Homo sapiens: one gene and its partners. The protein of the gene in region 1 purifies or fractionates together with the protein of each later gene. This does not show direct contact. Each region holds a gene or a part of one and is shown in the gene's direction. Other genes may lie near its edges.

Region 1 (7,108 bases):
TTGCCGAGGGCACAGTCACCCTGCAGGAGTTTGAGGTGGGCAGGCAGGCTGCAGGGGCGCCCAAGACAAACTTTGGGTGGGGACCCTGGAGAGGGGTTGTAGATGTTACCAGCCCAGTGCTGGGCACTAAGGATTTAAAGAAGTAGCCACTATGGTCCTTGTCCCCAAGAGGCCCCAGTTACCAAAGGGGACCAAGAACTAAGGATGCAGTTACAGCCAAGTGGGACACAGTGGGTACTGCAATGTGGGGGAAGTCCAGCCTTGAGCAGGAGTGCGGGAAGGCTTCCTGTAGGAGGCAGCCCTGAGCTGGGGTTGTCCCCATAATTATCTATGGAGTGTTCGTCCTTCCACCTTCATGGAGCTCTGAGGGCAAGGACTACAAGTTTCCAGAGCCTTCTCCAAGCCCCTTGCTGAGCGCACTGCAGGCCTGCCCAGCCTCGGGGTACCTGTACAGGATCCCCTGAACTCTGAGACTTTGGCTTCTAGCCATGAGGTCCCTATAGGCCAGAGACAGAGAGTTCTAGAAGAACTTGGTGATGGGGACCAGGACTTACGAGTCCAAGTGGACTGGGCGTCTGGCTGCGCAGGGCTTTGGTGCTCTGTCCACATCTTCATCCTGATTCCAGGAAGAAATTGCCAAATACGACCGGATCTGTGAGGAGGCTTATGGCAGGTCCAAGGATAAAAAGATTCTGCATATAAAGCACTGGTTGGACTCCCCCTGGCCTGGTGAGCGAGCAGTGTGTGGCTCAGAGGGACTCCCCTGGGCCTTGAGGTCTTGCACTGGGATCAGGACTGGAATGGCCCTGGGTGACAGCTGTCATTGCCTAGTCTAGAGGCTGCAGGCTCTATCACTGAGTCCCCAAAGCTGCGTGGGGCCGATTCCTGCAAGTCAAGGATAGCATTGCCCTCTGAGCATGGATGGCCAGGTGCTCACTGAAAAGGGAGGGCATAGCCAGGTGGGAGAGGAAGCCCTGGGCACTGGATGCTTGGGGCCAGGGTGCTCAGAGGGCCTCCCTGGGGGGCAGGGTTAGAAGAGCTGTTACCCTGGGGCCCAGAGGTGGGTGTTGGGCCTGTGGGGGAGTTGCAGCTGTGGCTGTCCAGCTGTCCCAGGTCCCAAGGGTGGGCTCAGGGTGAGTCCGAGTGCCGGTGGAGTTTGGGAAGCCATGGGCCACTCAGTCCTGGGGAGGCAGGCTGGCCAGGGGGATCAGAACCCACCACTGACACAGTGTGGACAGAGCCTCTCTCCCTCTCAGGCTTCTTCAACGTAGATGGGGAGCCCAAGAGCATGACATGCCCAGCCACGGGGATCCCTGAGGACATGCTCACCCACATCGGCAGTGTGGCCAGCTCTGTGCCCCTGGAGGACTTTAAGATCCACACTGGTGAGGTTGCTGGACAGGCTGCAGCCCAGGCTGCTGGCCCCACCCCAACACTGTGCCTCGAAGGGAGATTGGTTGGGATGCAAGAGAGATGGTGTGTCGCATTCCTGCTCAGTCTGTAGTGGGTCCACGTAGCTCTCGGCACCATGTCTGTGCCCGTGACAGTAGCTCTTTTCAGGGTGGGCGTGGCGAGCTGGGCAGCTCCAGATGCCACACTCCCAGCTGGGTACCAGTGACTAGTCTTAGGTTGGGGACCTTGGATTTTCCAAATGCCTTTGCCGGGGCGTCCCTGGGTCAGGCAGAAGAGCAGGAAAGCAAGGGCTCCCATACAGGGGCTGGAACGCAGCCTGGAACGTGGGCAGAATTCTGCAGCTGAAAGGACGGTGGCTTGCCGGGGCCTGGACCAATGACCGAGGGCAGCCCCCCCACTCCGGGGTGAGACTAGAATGTGGGTGGTCACCGACTGCATCCCTTGGCTGGGGCCACTGTGACCTTTGCCTGGGAAGTCCGGAGGGTCCCCTGTGGCTGTATTGGGGTGCCTACACACCCTCTGACCCACCTGGGGGAGTTCTGAGGGGGTTCCCTTACAGTGTGCACCGAGACCGAATGTCCTGGGGCAGCTGCTGACAGCGTTTGGGGCATGTGCCCGCTCTGTTTGTGTGTTAGCCTCTGTGTGTGGGGCTGACAGGAGCACAGCATAAGCCTGGGGACTTGGAGTCAAATCCGTGTACCTTGACAGCTGTGTGATCTGAGTAAATGACTCTGAGCCTGACGGTGTCTGCAACGTGGCCAATGCTTGCCAAGTGGTACCTGCTCCACCCCTCCACAGGCTCGGGGTAGCCCCTTGTCTCAGCTGGAGGAGGGGTGCCTGGCCCTGGGCCCTCCTGCAGCATCCCTGCCCTCCAACCAAATCAACAGATGGCTGCCCTGCTTTGTGCGGGGTGTGTGCTGAGCACCTACCTACCCGCCCCAGGGCTGGCTGTCCCTTGGCCCTCAGGCCAGCACTCCTTTCCCACAGGCCTCTCTCGCATTCTGCGGGGCCGTGCGGACATGACCAAGAACCGGACGGTGGACTGGGCGTTGGCAGAGTACATGGCCTTTGGCTCCCTGCTGAAGGAAGGCATCCACGTGCGGCTCAGCGGGCAGGATGTGGAGAGGGGCACATTCAGGTGAGCGCAGTGGGGCTCAGCATCCGCACAGGAGACCTGGAGCAGAAGCTGGGCCTGGCTTGGGGATCCCGAGGGGGCCTTTGTTGGGGTGGGATCTTCACAGCATCCCTAGCCCCTGCCCTCAGGTGGCATCATCAGATGGCCACCTCGCTGACCCCCCAGGGCAAGTGTGCAGAGCTCACTGCTGGGCCCAAGCTGTCCACTAAGGTCAAGCTGGTGGCCATCTGTGGTCCTCAGGATCATGTGTGTGTGGGGGGTGTGTGGTGAGTGTGGGCGAGTTGTGTGTGGTGTGTGTGTGTGGTGTGTTTGGTGTGTATGTGGTGTGTGGTATGTGGTGAGTGGGGGGAGTGTATAGGGGGTGTGTGTGGTGCGTGTGTGTGGTGTGTTTGTTGTATGTGTGGTGTGTATGTGTGTATGGTGTGTGTGGTGTGTGTGGGGGTGTGGTGTGTATTTGTGGGTGTGTGGTGTGTTGTGTGGTGCATGTGTGGTGTGTGTCGTGTGTGGTGTTTGTGGTGGGTGTGGTGCATTTGTGGTGTGTGTGGTGTGTGTTGTGTGTTGAGTGTGTATGGGGTATGTGTGGTGTATGTGTGGTGTGTGCGTGTGTGGTTTGTGGGGGTGTGCGTATGTGTGTGGGGTGTGTATAGTGTGTGTGGGGCGTGTATGGTGTGTGTGATGTGTGTGTATGTTTGGTGTGTGTGTAGGGTGTGTATGTGTGTAATGTGTGTGAGGGTGTTTGTGTGGTATGTGTGGGGTGTGTGGTGTGTAGTGTGGTGTGCGTGTGATATGTGTGGTATGTGTCATGTTTGGTGCATGTGTGGTGTGGTATTTGTGGGGTGTGTGTGGTTGTGTGTGTGTAGTGTATGTAGTGTGTGTGGTGTGTGTGATTGTGTTTGTGGTGTGTAGTCTGTGTGGTGTGTGTGTTGTGTGGTATGTGTGGTGTGTGTGGTATGTGTGGTGTGTGTAGTGTGTGTGGTGTTTGGTGTGTGTGCATGGATGTGTGTGGTGTATATGTGTGTGGTGTGTTTTGCATGTATGTGTGGTATGTGTGATGTGTGTGTATGTGGTGTTTGGTGTGTGTGGTGTGTGTATGTATGTGTGTGGTGTGTGTGTATGTATGTGTTTGGTGTGTGGGGATGTGTATGTGTGTGTGGTATGTGTGGCATGTGTATGTATGTGTGTGGTGTGTGTGTGTACTGCTGTTAAGTCAGCCCCTATCTTGCTTGTTTGCAGTTGTCTTTGTGAATCCAAATGGGGACTTGACACTTGTCAGTTGTCCACACCACATTTCCTCTGGTTCGGGTTCCTAAAATGTTCTAGATCCTGCCTCAGTCCGCTCCTGGTTAGCAAGCCAGGGTGGTGTGGCTTCCAGGACTTGACCAGCTGGCTTTCTCATTCCTGGTTGCTTATCTCGGCTGGTCTTGCTCCAGCCAGGGCCCAGGTGGCCCTCTGATGCACCCAGAGCTACCTGTCAGTCCTTGCCAGGGACTGGGGTTCAGCCAGGCGCCCCTCACTTACTGTGCCCACCTCGGCTACTGCACGGTGGTTTCTGCCTCTTGTGAGTTGGGACAGGGCTGGTGAGATGGTAAAGAAGCCAGCAAGACGGGGCAGGGGAAGTGGCCTCCTAGGGTCTCTGGCTCTAGCTGGCACCTGGGAAGTGTCTTATCAGGTCCCCTTTATGGGTGAAAAGCTGACATTCAGAGAGGTGCCACAACTCACAGCTCCTTCCCCCAGACCCCCCAGTGCGTGGTGTGTGGGCGCTGCTAGCAGGCAGGGGGCAGGCTGGGGAGGCCTGGTGGGGGACAGGCTGCAGGAGGGACCACATGGCTCTGGTTTTCCACAGCCTTCTTGGATGCCATGTTGTGGGACCCTGCAGGTTTCCTGGGACAGTGACGGAGGCTTGCCTGCCTCCTGCTGCCCAGCTCCCCTGCTCCAGGTGAACAGGTGCCAGCCCACCTGCCCTCTGTCCCTGCCCCGGTCTGTGTCTCTGCAGTCACCGGCACCATGTTCTCCATGACCAGGAGGTTGACCGCAGGACGTGTGTGCCTATGAATCATCTCTGGCCTGACCAGGCCCCGTACACCGTGTGCAACAGCTCCCTCTCGGAGTACGGAGTCCTGGGTGGGTCCACGCTCTCCTGCAGGCCAGGCAGGCCCCAGACACCTGGGGACAAGAGATGGGCTGGGAAGGGACCGGGGCCAGGGCCTGGGAGGGGCGAGAGATGCTCAGAGGCCCTTAGGGGATGGCCCTGGGGGATGGTGATTGGGCTGCCCTCACCTAAGGCCATGTGGGAGGTGAAATCGTGTCCCATCTGGGCCCCTTGGGGATCCCAGTTGGGGGGACCTCCTTGCCTTGAGGGGTTTTGTGGGTATCAGGGCCCCAGTGGGCGCAGACAGAGAGCCCAACACAGTCTGCTGTGGGTTCCAGCTGCTGAGCAGTCCAGTCTTGGCCCAGCCCTCTCACATTCCTTTGAGCCCCATCTTGCCTCCTCTGCCCTGCACCCTAGGAACACTGCACTGAGATCCCTTCTCTGGGCTCTGGGCTTCCCTGCCTGTGTCCCCTGTGCATGCTCTCCCTCAGATGCATCATTAGCTGGCTCACCTCGTCCTCACTGCCTGCCCCTAGAGGCCAGGCAGCCCCCCGCCCCCAGGCAGATGCCTCTAGGGCTGTTTCTGCCCCTTCTCCTTAGCAGCTCTGCATGTTTTTAAGGAGTTCTTGACAGATGGTCCCTGTTGCCTCCCCAGGATACCTAAATAAGGTTGAACCTGACCACACATGATAGCAGGGCTGAGGGTAGCATCTCTGAGCATGTTGTCAGCCCCCAGGATGGTACATTGTACCCTTTGAATCCCAGGGAATCCCTGGGTTCGTCCTGGCTTGTGAGAAGGATGGGTGGGGGCATGGAGGATATACTGAGAAAGGCTAAATTTGACTGGAGCCACTGCCACTTGGTGACTGTGTGCAGCAAGCTCTATCTTGTCTTCTGTTTAGGCTTTGAGCTGGGCTATGCCATGGCCAGCCCCAATGCCCTGGTCCTCTGGGAGGCCCAGTTTGGGGACTTCCACAACACGGCCCAGTGCATCATCGACCAGTTCATCAGCACCGGCCAGGCCAAGTGGGTGCGGCATAATGGCATTGTGCTGCTGCTGCCCCATGGCATGGAAGGCATGGTGAGGGCTGCGGTGGTGGCTGGTGGCTTGGTGGGTTCTGGCGGGCCTTGAAGGGGCGGGATGGACCCTGGGCCCCTTGTCGGGTTGGACGGTATATGCCTTCCAGGCCCCTGGAGCACGTGGGTCTGTGCAGGGTGGGGTCTGCACATGTGCATGCTGCAGCTGCTGAGACGATGATGCTACCCCTGGCAGCAGAAGGCGCTACCACGTATGAGTGCTTGCTGTGCGCCAGGCACTGTTCAATGCTTCTGAATGTTAACTCTTCCAATCCATACAACTTAATGAAGTAGGCTGTGTTCCTGCTTTTCAGATGAGGAAACAGAGGCACAGAGCTGGGGAGTAGGTTGCCCAAGGTTTCACAGCTAGTAGCTGGGGTTTGAAGCTATCCTGTGCAGTACTGCCTGTTCTCTGGTCCCCTCCTGTATGACCTGCCTCTGCAGCCACACATGGGGCAGAGGGAAGACATGCAGGCTGGGTGCATCCTCCGGAGGCTCCTGGGCTAGCAGGAAGGGAGGAAGGAGCAGGGTGTCATGTGATACCATCTGGTGGGCAGGTGGCCTGACCAGGCAGAAGGGAGACAGGCAGGGGGCTCATTGCCACCATTATCCCTGAGTGGCATGTTATGAGCACTTTACAGGCTGCATACTCGGCATCCTCACAACACCGGGTATCAGTGAGGAGGGAGGTGAGGCTCCCTGCTTGGGGCTGCCTGCCGTGAAGGCAGCTTCTTGGGAGGCCAGATCTGGGCCAGGCTGGGTGTGGGGGGCTGGGTCCTTGGCCGTCCCCACCAAGAGAGGGCAAGTGGCAGCTGTGCAGTGGGTCATCCCCGTCCTGCAGGAGCTGGCTTGGAGATGCCCCTGGGCTTGTCTTGCTGCTTTCATGGAGCAGAGCGGTCCGTGTGGGTGAGGGTGGGCGAGGCCCAGGCCGAGTTGGGTTGGCCCCTGCCTGGCTGTGTGGTCATGGGTGGTTTCTTACCCTCTCCTTGCCTCTTCATCTGTGCAGTGGGGAAGAGTGTCTGCATCATGGGGCTACTTTGGGGGTTAGCGATAAGGCGTGTGGGATTCCTAGAACTCTGCCTCCTGTACAGCAGGTGCTCAGTCAGTGGCAGCCACTGTTCCAGGACATTCCAGAGAAAGCACGTCTCAGTGCGGGCTTTTTGCTTTTTCTTCTGTCCCTGCAAGTTCACATACTGTGCTAGCTCTGGGCAGACCCCACTCTGAGGATTCCCATTCTGCTCTTGTTCCACATTCTTGGTTCTTTTCTATGGTTCAGGCTCCAGGGTGAGGGCACCTCTGCTGAGAAGCCCTCCAGACTTTCCCCTGAGCCTGGGGTCCCTGCAGGGCCAGATGTCTTTCCCATGGTGGGGTCCAGCCTTGGCTGTCTGGCGTTT
Region 2 (7,108 bases), on another chromosome or scaffold:
TGGTGCTCCCACCTCGGCCTCCCAGAATACTGAGACTACAGGTGTGACCCACTGTGCCCAGGCAGAATCACTCTTTTTAGAAAATAAGTATTAGTAAGCAGTGGGTTCTGAAATAAATAAAGGGACAATTAGTGTCATGGTGAATAAAAGAAAAAGGGCTCACTAAATTGATTAACGGGTCTGGAGGATACTGGATCCCAAACCCAAGAAGGTGGCACCCAAGAAGAATTACATTTTAAAAATTAAGAAGATTTTTTTAATGAAAAATATTGGATCAGTAATTTCTACCCAGTCTTCTCAAAGGTGAGAGCATAGAAATGTGTCTGGCATTCTTCCAAATACTTGAGCAGTTTCCCAAGCATCAGTTCATCTTTTGAAGACTGGTGGGAATGAGAAAGTCTGACTTATTCTGATTTATATTTTGTGTATAAATACACACAAAGGGATGGGGTTTAGGTTTTAATTTTTTTTTTTTTTTTTTTGCTACGCTGATTTAATCCTGAAGTATTAGCCATCCTGCCAGTTCCATCATGAGAATACTGGAGATGCATGAAGGTTTTTTTTAGTGCACTTCATATACGAGGACTTGAAAACATTTCACTTTCATTACTTTGAGTGAATAAGCAGACTTGATGCTACATGCAGTGAATATTCTTGGATCATTTTTTATTTTTATAAATTGAATCATGTTGAATGTTCTGAGCCTTAGTGTCTAAAGGATCCTGTAATCTAGGTTTTCATGTTTGTGATCATGTGTATATGAAGAACCTAGCCAGGGGTAAGTTTGCAGCGAGAAATGTATGGTCTATTGGCATGGCATTTGCTAAGTTTTTTTCTTCCTGTTTTTAACATGTTTGTCTTCTGCTTCATTAACCTAGTGTGTAGATGAATGCTATACACTTCTTTTTCCTAGGCTTTAATTCCATCAGTCATAAATTTCTTGTAGGTCTTTCACGTGTTAATAATTCCAATTGAGTCAAGTAAATTTGGAGTAGAATAACTTAGTTCCTAAGTTGAATTTCATTTAACTCTCCAAATAATTTTTCAGAAGGGATTCCATTTTTTGCTAATGATAGAATTGACATTTCCAGCTGGGCATAGTGGCTCATGCCTGTAATCCTAGCACTTTGGGAGGCCGAAGCAGGCGGATCACTTGAGGTCAGGAGTTCAAAACCAGCCTGGCCAAAATGGCGAAACCCCATCTCTACTAAAAATACAAAAAAATTAGCCGGGCGCAGCGATCACTTGTAATCCCAGCTACTACGGAGGCTGAGGCAGGAGAATCGCTTGAACCTGGGAGGTGGAGATTGCAGTGAGCCGAGATCATACCACTGCACTCCAGCCTGGAAAAAAAAAGAATTGACATTTCCATCTTTGTAAAAAATAGTTGAAGGCCGAGTGCAGTGGCTCATGCCTGTAATCCCAGCACTCTGGGAGACCAAGGTGGGACGATTGCTTGAGGCCAGGTGTTTAAGACCAGCCTAGGCAACGTAGAGAGATTGCATCTCTACAAAAAAAAAATTTTTTTGAATTAGCCAGGCGTGGTGGCACATGCCTGTAGAGGAAGCTGAGACAGGAGGATTGCTTAAGGCCAGGTGTTCAAGGTTACAGTGAGCAATGATCGAGCCAGTACACTCCATCCTGGGTGACAAGTAAGACCCTGTCTCAAAAAAAAAAAAACTTGACAAATGTAAAGTTGTTTTCCGCCTTTTCTGTGGGTCTCTCTGCAAGCATGTTCCAAGCACGTGTATTTCCTGCTCTGTTTCTCTGAGTATCTAATTGGTGATTTCCAAGATTGCTTCCTTTGCTCTACTGTGTGGTAGATTGGAAACAGATTCTGGTGCCAGGCTGCCTGTCCAGCTTTTTGCTTTGGGGCAAATTAACAGCACTGCCTGGTGGGATAGGGCCTCATTCATTAAAATGGGGGTAACTTACAATCCCTATTTTGCTGGGTTGTTGGGTTTGAAAATTAAATAATGTTTTGAAAGCTCCAAGGCCATTGCTTAGCATAACAGTCCCCCCTCTTTCTCTCCTCTTACTAAGAAACAAGTGAATATATTTCTTGTGTTTGTTGAGTCTCTTTGTGTGTTTTTTTTTTTTTTTTTTTTTTTGAGATTGTCTTGCTCTGTCACCCAGGCTGGAGTGCAGTGGCATGATCTTGGCTCACTGCAACCTCTGCCTCCTGGGTTCAAGCAATTCTCCTGCCTCAGCCTCCAGAGTAGCTGGAATTACAGGCATGCGCCACCACACCTGGCTAATTTTTGTATTTTGAGTAGAGACTGGGTTTTACCATGTTGGCCAGGCTGGTCTTGAACTCCTGACCTCAGGTAATCCGCCTGCCTTGGCTGCCCAAAGTGCTGGGATTATAGGCATAAGCCACCATGCCCGGCCATGTTCCCTTTTTTAAAATGTGTATGAGGAGGGGGCTTACTATGCAAGCGCTTGGAGGCCAACGAGCACTGAAAATGAGGAGAGAGTTCAAAAATCAAGTTAGATCCTGGGATACGCCAACAAATCCAGACACTACAGTTCTTTCGGAGAAACCTGGGGACGAAAAGTAAGGCTTTGACCTCAGAAAATGAACATACAGGAAAAATAATGTGTCCTAATGTGTCCTAATGAAATTTCTCTAGTATTCACATGTTATAAAATGTTAGGAAGAAAGAAGATGTGTCCTCCTACAAGCCATAAATCAGAATTCTAATAATCTAAAGCTAATTAGAAAAATATTACATGTTAAATATTAAATATTAGAATAGAAAAATGTATGAGGGAAAAAAATTGAGACACAGCTGAATTTTTCAGGCTGTTCCAGCACTAAAAAAAAAATACAGGAGAAGAATGTCACATATTTTCCTCTTCCTCCCCCTCCAGATTCCATAATATCAAATTCATAACTTTTCATTTGCGCATGCCTTATTTTCCATTCCTTGTTTGTCACTAATCCTGTTAGTAAAAGGATTCCCCCACCTATGTTCATAATTAAGTTTTGGTCTAAAAAGAACTACAAACAGAAGCACAGTTCCCTAGATTTCTAATTTTTTTTTATTTTATCACAGCCAGTTAACTTATTACATTGGATACTTAAACACATAGTACCATAAACTGGATGTGGTCTTGTAGCCGCCAGATCTTCAGTTTTGACTTTGGCCCAATTCTCCTAGAAGTACTTAATTTTAATTCATTTTATTACCTAACGTCCTATTAATAATCCCGTTGGTTTCAAAGTATATTCTTAGGTTTCACAAGAGGCTGAAATTTGGTCTTAGGGGTTGTCACTTAAAAATAACTAATGTAATTTTTGGCCGGGCACGGTGGCTCATGCCTGTAGTCTCAGCACTTTGGGAGGCCAAGGCTGGCAGATCACGAGGTCAGGAGTTCGAGACCAGCCTCACCAATATGGTGAAACCCCATCTCTACTAAAAGTAGAAAAATTAGCCAGGCACGGTGGCGGGCGCCTGTAATCCCAGCTACTCAGGAGGCTGAGGCAGGAGAATCACTTGACCCCAGGAGGCAGAGGTTGCAGTGAGCCAATATCGCCCACTACACTCCAGCCTGGGCGACAGAGGGAGACTCCATCCAAAAAAAAAAAAAAGAAAAAAAAATGTCATTTTTAATTGTATTGTTTCAGGGCGTTTTAGAGTATTTGTTTTTCAGTGTTAGCTTTGTTTGTGTTTCCCCCCTCCCCTTTTCCCTGATTTTCTTTTCAGACGTCTTTTTACAAGGGAAACGGTTCCACGAAGCCTTGGAAAGCATACTTTCACCCCAGGAAACCTTAAAAGAGAGAGATGAAAATCTCCTCAAGTCTGGTTACATTGAAAGTGTCCAGCATATTCTGAAAGATGTCAGTGGAGTGCGAGCTCTTGAAAGTGCTGTTCAACATGAAACCTTAAACTATATAGGTCTGCTGGACTGTGTGGCTGAGTATCAGTAAGTATGAGATTGGAGGTGAATTAATACAGCGTAGGACAGATGGTGCCTGTCAAAGGTGTGCCTGTAGGTACTGTAGCCTCTGTCTGTTTAATGTCCAGACCTTTGTGCTAGGTAAAAGAATTGGGTGGGGCGGGGTTGAGAACAGGTACAAGGAGAAGAGCCACGTAACCTTTGTCATCCAGTACTCCAAAATCAAATTGTTTGCTGGAGAAAGGTATATTCTTTGTTTGTTTGTTTTGTTTTGAGACGGAGTGTCACCCAAGCTGGAGTGCAGTGGTGCAATCTTGGCTCACTGCAACCTCCGTCTCCCAGGTTCAAGCGGTTCTCCTGCCTCAGCCTCCTGAGTAGCTGGGACTACAGGCATGCACCACCGCACCTGGCTAATTTTTGTATTTTTAGTAGAGACAGGGTTTCACCATGTTGGCCAGGCTGGTCTCAAACTCCCGACCTCAAGTGATCCATCCACCTTGGTTTCCCAAAGTGCTGGGATTACAGGCGTGAGCCACTGCACCTGGCCGAGATTTTTCAATCTCCCTAACATGGCCTGTTTGCCAGCCTGTCCTTCCCCTCCCCCAAAGCAAGGTACCTGCCATAAGATCCAATTTCATTCCTGCGTTTTCTTTCCTGTTTTTCTAAAGATAGCACCATGATCTGTTGGTTCTGAAAATCAACTCTTCCTGGCTTCCAGGCAGTGCTTGACATGGATCAGAGATCTGAACTTACTAAAGCTTCCCATGGTTGTTTTGTTTTGTTTTGTTTCGTTTTGTTTTTTGAGACGGAGTTTTGCTCTTGTTGCCCAGGCTGGAGTGCAGTGGTGCGATTTCAGCTCACTGCAACCTCCATCTCCTAGGTTCAAGCTATTATCTTGCCTCAGCCTCCCAAGTAGCTGGGATTACAGGCATGCGCCACCATGTGTGGCTGATTTTGTATTTTTAGTAGAGATGGGGTTTCTCCATGTTGGTCAGGCTGGTCTCGAACTTCGGACCTCAGGTGATCCGCCTGCCTCAGCCTCCCAAAGTGCTAGGATTGTAGGCATGAGCCACCACGCCCGGTCCCCATGGTTTTTATATCGTAGCTGTCTTACTGTTTTACTCAGGTACTTCAGAGTCCAAGTGTTACAGGAAAGGGGTCCTGATCCAGACCCCGAGAGGGTTCTTCGATCTCGGGCAAGAAAGAATTTAGGTTGAAGGCAGGCACAGTGGCTCACGCCTGTAATCCCAGCACTTTGGGAGGCCGAGGTGGGCAGATCACCTGAGGTCAGGAGTTCAAGACCAGCCTAGCCAACATGGCAAAACTCCGTCTCTACTAAAAATACAAAAATTAGCCAGGCGCAGTGGTGTGTGCCTATAGTCCCAGCTACTCGGGAGTCTGAGGCAGGAGAATCACTTTAACCCGGGAGGCAGAAGTTGCAGTGAACCGAGATGGTGCCACTGCACTCCAGCCTGAGCAACAGGTGAGACTCTGTCTCAAAAAAAAAAAAATAAAAGAAAGAAAAGAAAAAGCATTCAGGATGAGTCTGCAGTGCAAAGTAAAAGCAGGTTTATTAATAAAGTAAAGTAGTGGAAGTATAGCTACTCCATAGACAGAGCAGGGCGTTCCTGAAAGTAAGAGGAGGAACACTTCCACCCTAAGTACAGTGCTCATATATATAAGATAAAAAAAGAGATCTTGGGGAGATGTGCTCTACTGCAAGGGTTTGTGATAAAGGATTAATTTTCTTAATTATTATATTTTGCAAGAATCGATACTATCTTTAAAGCAAAATTAGGAATGCCTTCGTTCTCCAGATATCAGGGTATCTGGACACTCCCAAGTCTGGGTCTGTTTAGTAAACATTATTAATTTGTTCCCTTAACCTTAAACATCTAGAGGCTATGAATGCCTGACTTTCTGGGAATGCAGCCCAGCAAGGCCCAGCCTCACTTTCCTAGCCCTCACTCAAGATGGAGTTGCTCTCGTTCGAACGCCTCTGATACAAAGGTGGCTACAACCTGCAGGTACCCCTAATCCAAATAAGGCAAGCGATCACTAAGAACAAGATAGAAAAATCCGTTCATGTAAACCTTGAAGCTCTAGTTAAAATTTAAGTTTAAAAGCTTGTCTATTCCACAGCCCAATACAAATTCGTAAACTTTCTTAAAACATTATGAGATTTTTTTTTGGTTATTTATTTATTTATTTTTAGTTCATCAGCTATTGTGTGGCCCAAGACAATTCTTCCAATGTGGGCCAGGAAGCCGAAAGAGTGGGCACCCTTGATAGTCTGAAAACTGTTTAGACCACCTAATGGTTTTATTTTTTATTTATTTATTTTTGAGACGGAGTTTCACTCTTGTTGCCCAGGTTGGAGTGCAATGGCGTGATCTTGGCTCACTGTAACCTCTGCCTCCTGGGTTCAAGCGATTCTCCTGCCTCAGCCTCCCAAGTAGCTGGGATTAGAGGTGCACGCCACCACACCCGGCTAATTTTTGTGTTATTAGTAGAGATGGGGTTTCGCCATGTTGGCCAGGCTGGTCTCGAACTCCTGACCTCAGGTGATCCACCCACCTCAGCCTCCCAAAGTGCTGAGATTACAGACGTGAGCCACCGCGCCTGGCCTAGACCACCTAATGGTTTTATAGCACAACTGCGTCATATCTGAGAAGAGCCCTGTATACCAAGAGATTTAATAGACTTTGGTTGCCTTTTAGATAAACCAAGGAAGCCATACAGTCACCTCCACCCAAGGCCTACAAGAAGTTCCTGACACCCAATGCTTGTCATAGAGATGATAAAATATGTCCATAGCACTGTTGTTTGTTTTTTGCTTTTTAAGTCAACATCAACCTTGGTAATATGAACATTTTTGAAACTACGGTTTTTTTTTGTTGTTTTTGTTTTTGTTTTTGAGACAGAGTCTTGCTCTGTCACCCAGACTGGAGTGTGGTGGCCCAATCTCAGTTCACTGCAACCTCTGCCTCCTGGGTTCAAGCAATTCTCCTGTGTCAGCCTCCCCAAGTGGCTAGGACTACAGGCACCCACCACCACGCCTGGCTAATTTTTTGTGTTTTTAGTAGAGATGGGGTTTGGACATGTTGCCCAGGCTGGTCTCGAGCTCCGGGCCTTGAGTGATCTGCCCGCCTCAGCCTCCCAAAGTGCTGGGATTGTAAGTGTGAGCCACTGCACCCAGCCTAGA
Region 3 (7,108 bases), on another chromosome or scaffold:
TTTTAAGTATTTAAAACAGAAAGTTAATAGGATTATATTGAAGTATTTTGACCTGTCAGTACCAAGGATATTGATTATTTGCAATGTACTGTTTTGACATTTACTGAATTCACCCATATGGATTATAAGTAACATTGGATGTCTTAAAGCTTCAGTTATAGAAATCATTATCTGGGCAAACTGTGACTATCAGTCTCCCTGCATTCTGTGAAGTAATTTAATCCTGTATCCTCAACTGTTATCCAACCATTATCATTTTGGATATTTTATTTCTAGAGGAAGGGTAGGGGGAGGATTCTAGTAACCCATGACTAACAGTGAGTGAGTGATTTATTCTAGCTTTGAACAGGTCAAGAAATCCTTTTAAAAAAATGCTAATATGATGATGAAGGGAAAAGTTGGACCTCTTATACACTTTGTCTCTTGTTAAATAGGAATCTCATTCTTCTCAACTCATATAACAGGAGAAATGTTAGATTTTCATTTCTAAAGGATATTTTTCATGGCTAACTCTATACCTTTGGCATCACTCAGCAGAGATTATTCAGTGCCTTCTATTTGCCAGGCAGACCCTGAGCCAGAACTTAGATTTTAGTGGAATGAGGCTGAGTGTTCCATAATCAGTTTGGTGATCCCTTGACATTGAGTAAATCATAAATCACTTAGTACCCATGTGTGTAAAGTGTGTAAAAGCTTTGAGTGGATGCAGTAACAAGCATTTTACACACATACTTGTATTTTATCTGAGGTACATGCTTACTGTCTTTTCCTCAGGAATGCAAACTTCATCAGGACAGGGACTGTGTGTGACTGTTTTGTTTAGTATCTAAAGTGATACAGTAGGTAATCAGTACATATTTATTGAATGAATGAACACTGGGGCCTGGTCTGTTTTAATTACTGCTCTGTGGCAAAGCATCCAGTATGGTGTCTTGTACAAAGTAAGTAACCAGCTACAACAGCAATAATATTAACTGATGCATTGAGGGCTTCACTCTGTCTCAGGCACAGATTTAATCCTCATGGCCTTTCTACTACCTGTGTGCTGCTGTTCTCCCCATTTTATAGATGGAAGAGTTAGGTTTTTTAACTAGGAAATGACAGAGCTGGGAGAATCCTTTTGACTTCAGAGCCTACACTGTTAATGTTTTATTGAGTTTTCTTCCTTACATGAGTATTGATTGACTCTCCTGAGGAGTTCAAATCTTATTATGATATAGTCTTGGTTACAACATCTGAGAGATGTCTGAATAGCCTTATGAACCAGGTTCATCAGAATTTGCAAAGTTGTGTGTGTTACTGTTGATGTGACGTTTTATTTCATGACAGCACTTAATCAAACTTGTAACACTTAAACTTACAGCACTTATATCACTCACATTCACTACATTCATTCATTCTTTTATTATTTCGACAAATACTAATATCTACTATGTGTTAGTCATTGGGCTAACTACTGGAGTACCGCAGTGAGCAAGACGGACAAGACCCAGCTTTTATAGAGCTTACAATTCAGTTGAGGGAGACAAACATCCAACATATAATTGTGACAGGGGTCCATAGACTTAAGCATAGGGAGTAATGACATCTATATATGGATTGGGAATGGTCACATAATTCTTTCCTAAGGAATTATGTTGATAGCTAAAAAGGTTGAGAGTAACTCTCGTTACAGGTTGGACCTTTTACTGTAATTCTTTTTTTTATTTAGACTGTAAGAAATAGGGCTATGTCATTTATATATACACACACACAGACACAGCATGTGCAGACACACCCCTCCAAGAGCCTAAAGTAGTGTTTGTAATGTGAAATGCCTGCTGTTAGTGTTTATTTCTAGGTAGATGGAACAGATCGTACATAGGTAGACCAGCATAATTCTATGCATGTAGGCTAAGAGTAGTAATTCACCGTTACTGAAGCTTAAACTGCATGGTATTGGTGAGTAAACAGAACGTGGTAGGAGATGAGGCTGGAGAAATAGTTACTGAAGGAATTTGGATGCTGTACTTAGGAACATGGGCTTTATCTAACAAGACACTGGAGAACCAACAGAGCGTAACAACAGAGAGAATAACATCTGAGTTGGGTTTTAGCTTTGCGGTAGCACTGGGTAGGCTAAAATGGAGGATGTGAATGAGGCTAGAGGCTGCTGGACTGAAGTTTGGAGGTGGATCTGAGAAGGGGAGTGACACTGAGTTGCTAGTATGCACCTAGCACCTCCTTAGGATCTTAACATGCGTACTCTCTGATCCTCACAACCCTAGGCTGCAGGTGTCATCCTTACTATTACCCCCATGTTGTATCAAAGCCCAGAGAGATTGAGTAATTTGCCCAAGAACTTAACGGGGTTAGAGTTTGGAACCCAGGTCTGTTTTACTTCAGATCATTTCTTATTTTACTATATTTCTTCTTTAGGGACCAGGAGGTTATGACTAGAAAGTAGAGTATTGATTTCAGAGGCTGAACAGTTTTGGGTGATAACAAGTATAGAGTGTTAACTATGGGAGGAGGTTACTGAAAAAGACTGGATATTAAGGCCATTGACAATGTAAAAACAACTTCCCTTACCCCTCAACAAAATGTCAACAAATAAACCTTATCAAGTAGTTCTTACATTCAGTAAATTTGGTAATTAATGATTATTGCCTTATGACATCTCTTTTCCTGTTCGTTTTTTCTTTTTAAAAATCTGGTTTTGTTTTTGTTTGTTTTTTTTTTTGAGACAAAGTCTCGCTCTTGTCCCCTAGGCTGGAGTGCAGTGGCGTGATCTTGGCTCACTGCAACTCCACCTCCCGGGTTCAAGTGATTCTCCTGCCTCAGCCTCCCGAGTAGCTGGGATTACAGGTGCCTGCCACCAGCCCGGCTAATTTTTGTATTTTTAGTAGAGATGGGGTTTCACCATGTTGGCCATGCTGGTCTCGAACTCCTGACCTCAGGGGATCCACCCACCTCGGCCTCCCAAAGTGTTGGAATTACAGGCATGAGCCACCGCGCCTGGCCAAAAATCTGATTTTACCTTTATTTTGACATGTGCCTCTTTTTTCTCACTGTGTTTTAAGGTTATTGAAGGTACTGATGAGTCATAAATATTTGATTTCATTCTGTAAAGCATATTCTTGTCATTTTAGTTGAAGTTCTTGATTGTCCTGGAGATTATGGGATCATCTGAGTGTTTTGGAAGGCAATAGAACATAATGGTATATAGGAGCACACATTTCAGAATCTAGAGGACCTTGTTTGAATCCTGGCTAGATTACTTACTAGTTGTGTAGCCTTATGCAAATTATTTAGTTGTTTTCAACCTTTTCTTCCTCTGTTAATGGTAGTATTAAACTATGTCATAGAAATGTAATGAGGCTTACATAAGACAGTACACGTGACTGGCTCACTAACTGGCACATTTTAAGCTACCCAAGTGGTAGGTATTATTGTAGACTGACTTTTTTTTTTTTTTTTTTTTTTGAAACTTGGTCTCACTCTATCATGCAAGCTGGGGTGCAATGGTGCGATCTTGGTTCACTGCAACTTCCACCTCCCGGGTTCAGGAGATTCTCATGCCTCAGCCTCCTGAGTAGCTGGGACTACAGGCACGCACCACTATGCCCAGCTAATTTTTGTATTTTTAGTAGAGATAGGGTTTCACCATGTTGGCCTGGCTGGTCTTGAACTCCTGACCTCAAGTGATCCACCCGCATTGGCCTCCCAAAGTGCTGGGATTACACAGACTGACTTCTTGAGATACATCTTGTAATTATATTGATGATTACAATTGATTTGTAACACAATACCTTTATTTCAGTGGTAGCCTGGATAACCAGGTGCCTTATTTTCCTTATAATGATCTAATATGTAACACTTGTAGGAATTTGTAGAGTACTTTTCTTGACTTTTTTCTTTGAGTTAATTTTAATAACATTAATTGCCTTGTTTAAGTCAGTCACCTCTTATTGTACTCCAGTATTTTTAAAGTATCAACCTGATACTTTAAACCTGGTAGGAGCACACATTTCAGAATCTAAAGGACCTTGTTTGAATCACTTCACTGAAACACAGATTGCTATTCACCTGTCATTTGCCACTTTTCCATCAGGTTTGCCTTAAATAAATGTATTTCATTTAACTACTTTTCTGTATCCTTTTTTTTTTTTTTTTTTTTTTTTGAGACAGAGTTTAGCTCTTGTTGCCCAGGCTGGAGTAGTTCAGTGACACGATTTCAGTTCACTGCGACGTCCCCCTCCTGGGTTCAAGCGATTCTCCTGCCTCAGCCTCCCGAGTAGCTGGGGTTACAGGTGCTTGCCACCACGCCTGGCAATATTTTGTATTTTTAGTAGAGACAGGGTTTCACCATGTTAGTCAGGCTGGTCTCAAACTCCTGACCTCAGGTGATCCACCTGCCTCGGCCTCCCAAAGTGCTGGAATTACAGGTGGGAGCCACCACACCTGGCCTGTATCCTGATTTTTTAACTTTTTTTTTGAGACAGAGTCTTGCACTGTCGCCCAGGCTGGAGTGCAGTGGCGTGATCTCGGCTCACTGCAAGCTCTGCCTCCTGGGTTCACGCCATTCTCCTGCCTCAGCCTCCCCAGCAGCTGGGACTACAGGTGCCTGCCACCACGCCCGGCTAATTTTTTTTGTATTTTTAGTAGAGACGGGGTTTGGTCTTGATCTCCTGACCTCGTGATCCGCCTGCCTCGGCCTCCCAAAGTGCTGAGGATTACAGGTGTGAGCCACCACACCCGGCCCTGATTTTTTAACTTTATGTATGGGACTCAACCTGTGAAATTATTCTTGACAAGGAGAGGGTGAGTCAGAATCATGTGTTATCAGCTTTCATTTATATGCATCCTTTGGTACAGGTGAGAGGTAGATGATTTGTTTTTCTGACATTTTATTATGAAAAATTATAAGCATTTAGAAAATTATAAGAATTTTACATTGAACACCCATAGTTTTCTTCCATTAACATTTTCTGTGCTTACAGTACCACATATGTGCTCATTCGTTTATCCATCAGTGCAGACGTGTGTATACTTCCCCTAAATACTGGTTTGTTTTTGAAAGTTTGTTCCTGGCTTATACCCTCCTGTATTCTCAGTTGACAGATCTTTACATAAAGAGTCTGCTTTTTTCTCATTTTTGTGCATCTTAGCACTTTAGTGGTATTGTAATGGAATATTACATCTAGTATGTACAGTGAGAGAGGAGCTCTTGAATTTTTGGTATTTTCTGAAGTTTAAAAAAAAACACCTAAGATTACATAGTGAATAGGGAAGTAAAACCCAAGGTTTTTGGCTATTATCTTTTATCTCTTGTTTACTTCTCCTGACCTTACTAAAACAAGTTCTTTTCCAAACCAAATTTATTTATCATTTTAGTACCATGGACCTACTATAAGAATTGTTACATATCAGTGATTAAAAGTATATGCTCAAAAATACATATACTTAAAATCTAAAATATTTAATTCAGTTTTATTGTCATTAAAAGGGTTTTTGGAGAATTATAGCAGTAATATATGTTATAAATATATATGCTCATGTAAGAGTGAGAAAAGAATATAAAATATGGCAAAAATTGAATTTTATAAAAACTTTCCTAGAAGAAGGATTGGGAGGACCTATAAACAGTTCTCTCTGGGCTGTATGGCAATGTGGATGGGTTGTTTTTTTTTTAATTTTGCTTTAGTGTATTTAAATTTATTCAGTAAACCTAAATTTTTAATCAGAAAAGACATTAAAAATTCAGCAAAGAAACCTGTTTTGTAGCTTGTATTTACATTACTCTGAAATTAAAAATTAGAACCCATTTAAGGGATGTTGTGTAGATCGTCATTTGGTTCAAGATTTGAAAATAAAAATACATTTTATTAGATACTTAATTCTGAACCGAAATCAGTGAACCAAGCAGGGTGGCTAAAAAGCACAGATGGATCAGTAAAAATTGAAGCAATTTTTCATGTATTGAAATGACTATACATATTTTTTCATGTATTATCTCAATTATCATCTGCTATAACCAAAGAGAATCTAGTATTTTCATTTATTCAACAGGAGGGATTCTTAGATTTTGTGGATAATTGGGCTGAGTAACTTAGTTATCCACCAACACAGAGGTTCTGTGATTCTGTTCAGGCCAGCAAAGGTTTTTTGAATGATCCTACTCTAGGGATGTGTGTTTTTGGGGAGAGGGGGTGATGCAAATTAAAATAGTCTTCTTTGTAGGTCAGAATATAGCTACTATGTATAGAATACTTATTATGTATGCTATAGGTACTATGCTAAATTATTTACATACATTATTTTATTCTGTTATCACCCTATGAAGTAGGTTTTTTTTGTGGTCTTTCTTTTGCCAGGTATGGAAACAAAGATGAAGCAGGTTAAATTACTCACCTAAGGTCACATAGGTAGTGATTATAAAGCTTGATTATTGCTCTCTGGAATTTTAGTTTATGATGGTTAAAACTGAGGAATGGAATAGTATTGAATAATGGAAAGACCACCGGAAGTAGAGTCAAAAAGCTTAGTTTGTCTCTGCAACTCACTTGCTGGTTAACCTTAGACAAGTTAATTGACCTCTCTGAACTTCTTGTTTATTCTGTGAAATGTCTTATTTATGACATCTTTATCTTCCTCATAGGAAATTCTGAGACTCAAACATGATAATATATGTGAATATGTGTTATGAATTGCTAAATGCTAGACTAGTTGGGGTTGTCAGGACAGTGGAAGGGGAAGAAAAGGGAGACTGTTTCCTAACTCTTAACAGTCACTGTTACTTTATTTGAAGTTGGATTGAGAAGAATGGGAGTAATTGGACTTACTTGCACATTTGTATTACAATTGTTAAACTCCTAAGGATACTGATCAAAATTAATTTTCAATTTTTTATCTTTATTTGAAAAATGGCCACAATAGTTAATTGAATATTCTGGTTAGCCTATTATCTTAAGGTATGTAAAAATTATCAATATGCAAGTACAAAACATATTTGTTAAATATTACATAGAAGCTGTTTTTTCCCTCATATTTCAGAAGTTAAGGACCTGAAAAAGGTAATAGGTCTTAAATTTATTGGAAATACTAAAGCATTATATAAAATTATCTT

What was found.
Region 2: the proteins of OGDHL (region 1) and MGME1 purify together in Homo sapiens (co-immunoprecipitation; 2 studies listed by BioGRID and IntAct, with this or other methods). This does not show direct contact.
Region 3: the proteins of OGDHL (region 1) and DLD purify together in Homo sapiens (affinity purification with mass spectrometry; 3 studies listed by BioGRID and IntAct, with this or other methods). This does not show direct contact.

The regions. Positions count from the first base shown.
Region 1 is NC_000010.11:49,738,271-49,745,378, reverse strand, and holds part of OGDHL (2-oxoglutarate dehydrogenase-like, mitochondrial), read left to right. Parts: coding exon 1-35; intron 36-626; coding exon 627-729; intron 730-1,256; coding exon 1,257-1,385; intron 1,386-2,400; coding exon 2,401-2,551; intron 2,552-4,541; coding exon 4,542-4,669; intron 4,670-5,539; coding exon 5,540-5,718; intron 5,719-7,108.
Region 2 is NC_000020.11:17,971,974-17,979,081, forward strand, and holds part of MGME1 (mitochondrial genome maintenance exonuclease 1 isoform 2 precursor), read left to right. Parts: intron 1-733; coding exon of another isoform or gene 734-778; intron 779-3,710; coding exon 3,711-3,930; intron 3,931-7,108. UniProt on the Homo sapiens protein: Metal-dependent single-stranded DNA (ssDNA) exonuclease involved in mitochondrial genome maintenance. Has preference for 5'-3' exonuclease activity but is also capable of endonuclease activity on linear substrates.
Region 3 is NC_000007.14:107,894,132-107,901,239, forward strand, and holds part of DLD (dihydrolipoyl dehydrogenase, mitochondrial isoform 1 precursor), read left to right. Parts: intron 1-7,108. UniProt on the Homo sapiens protein: Lipoamide dehydrogenase is a component of the glycine cleavage system as well as an E3 component of three alpha-ketoacid dehydrogenase complexes (pyruvate-, alpha-ketoglutarate-, and branched-chain amino acid-dehydrogenase complex).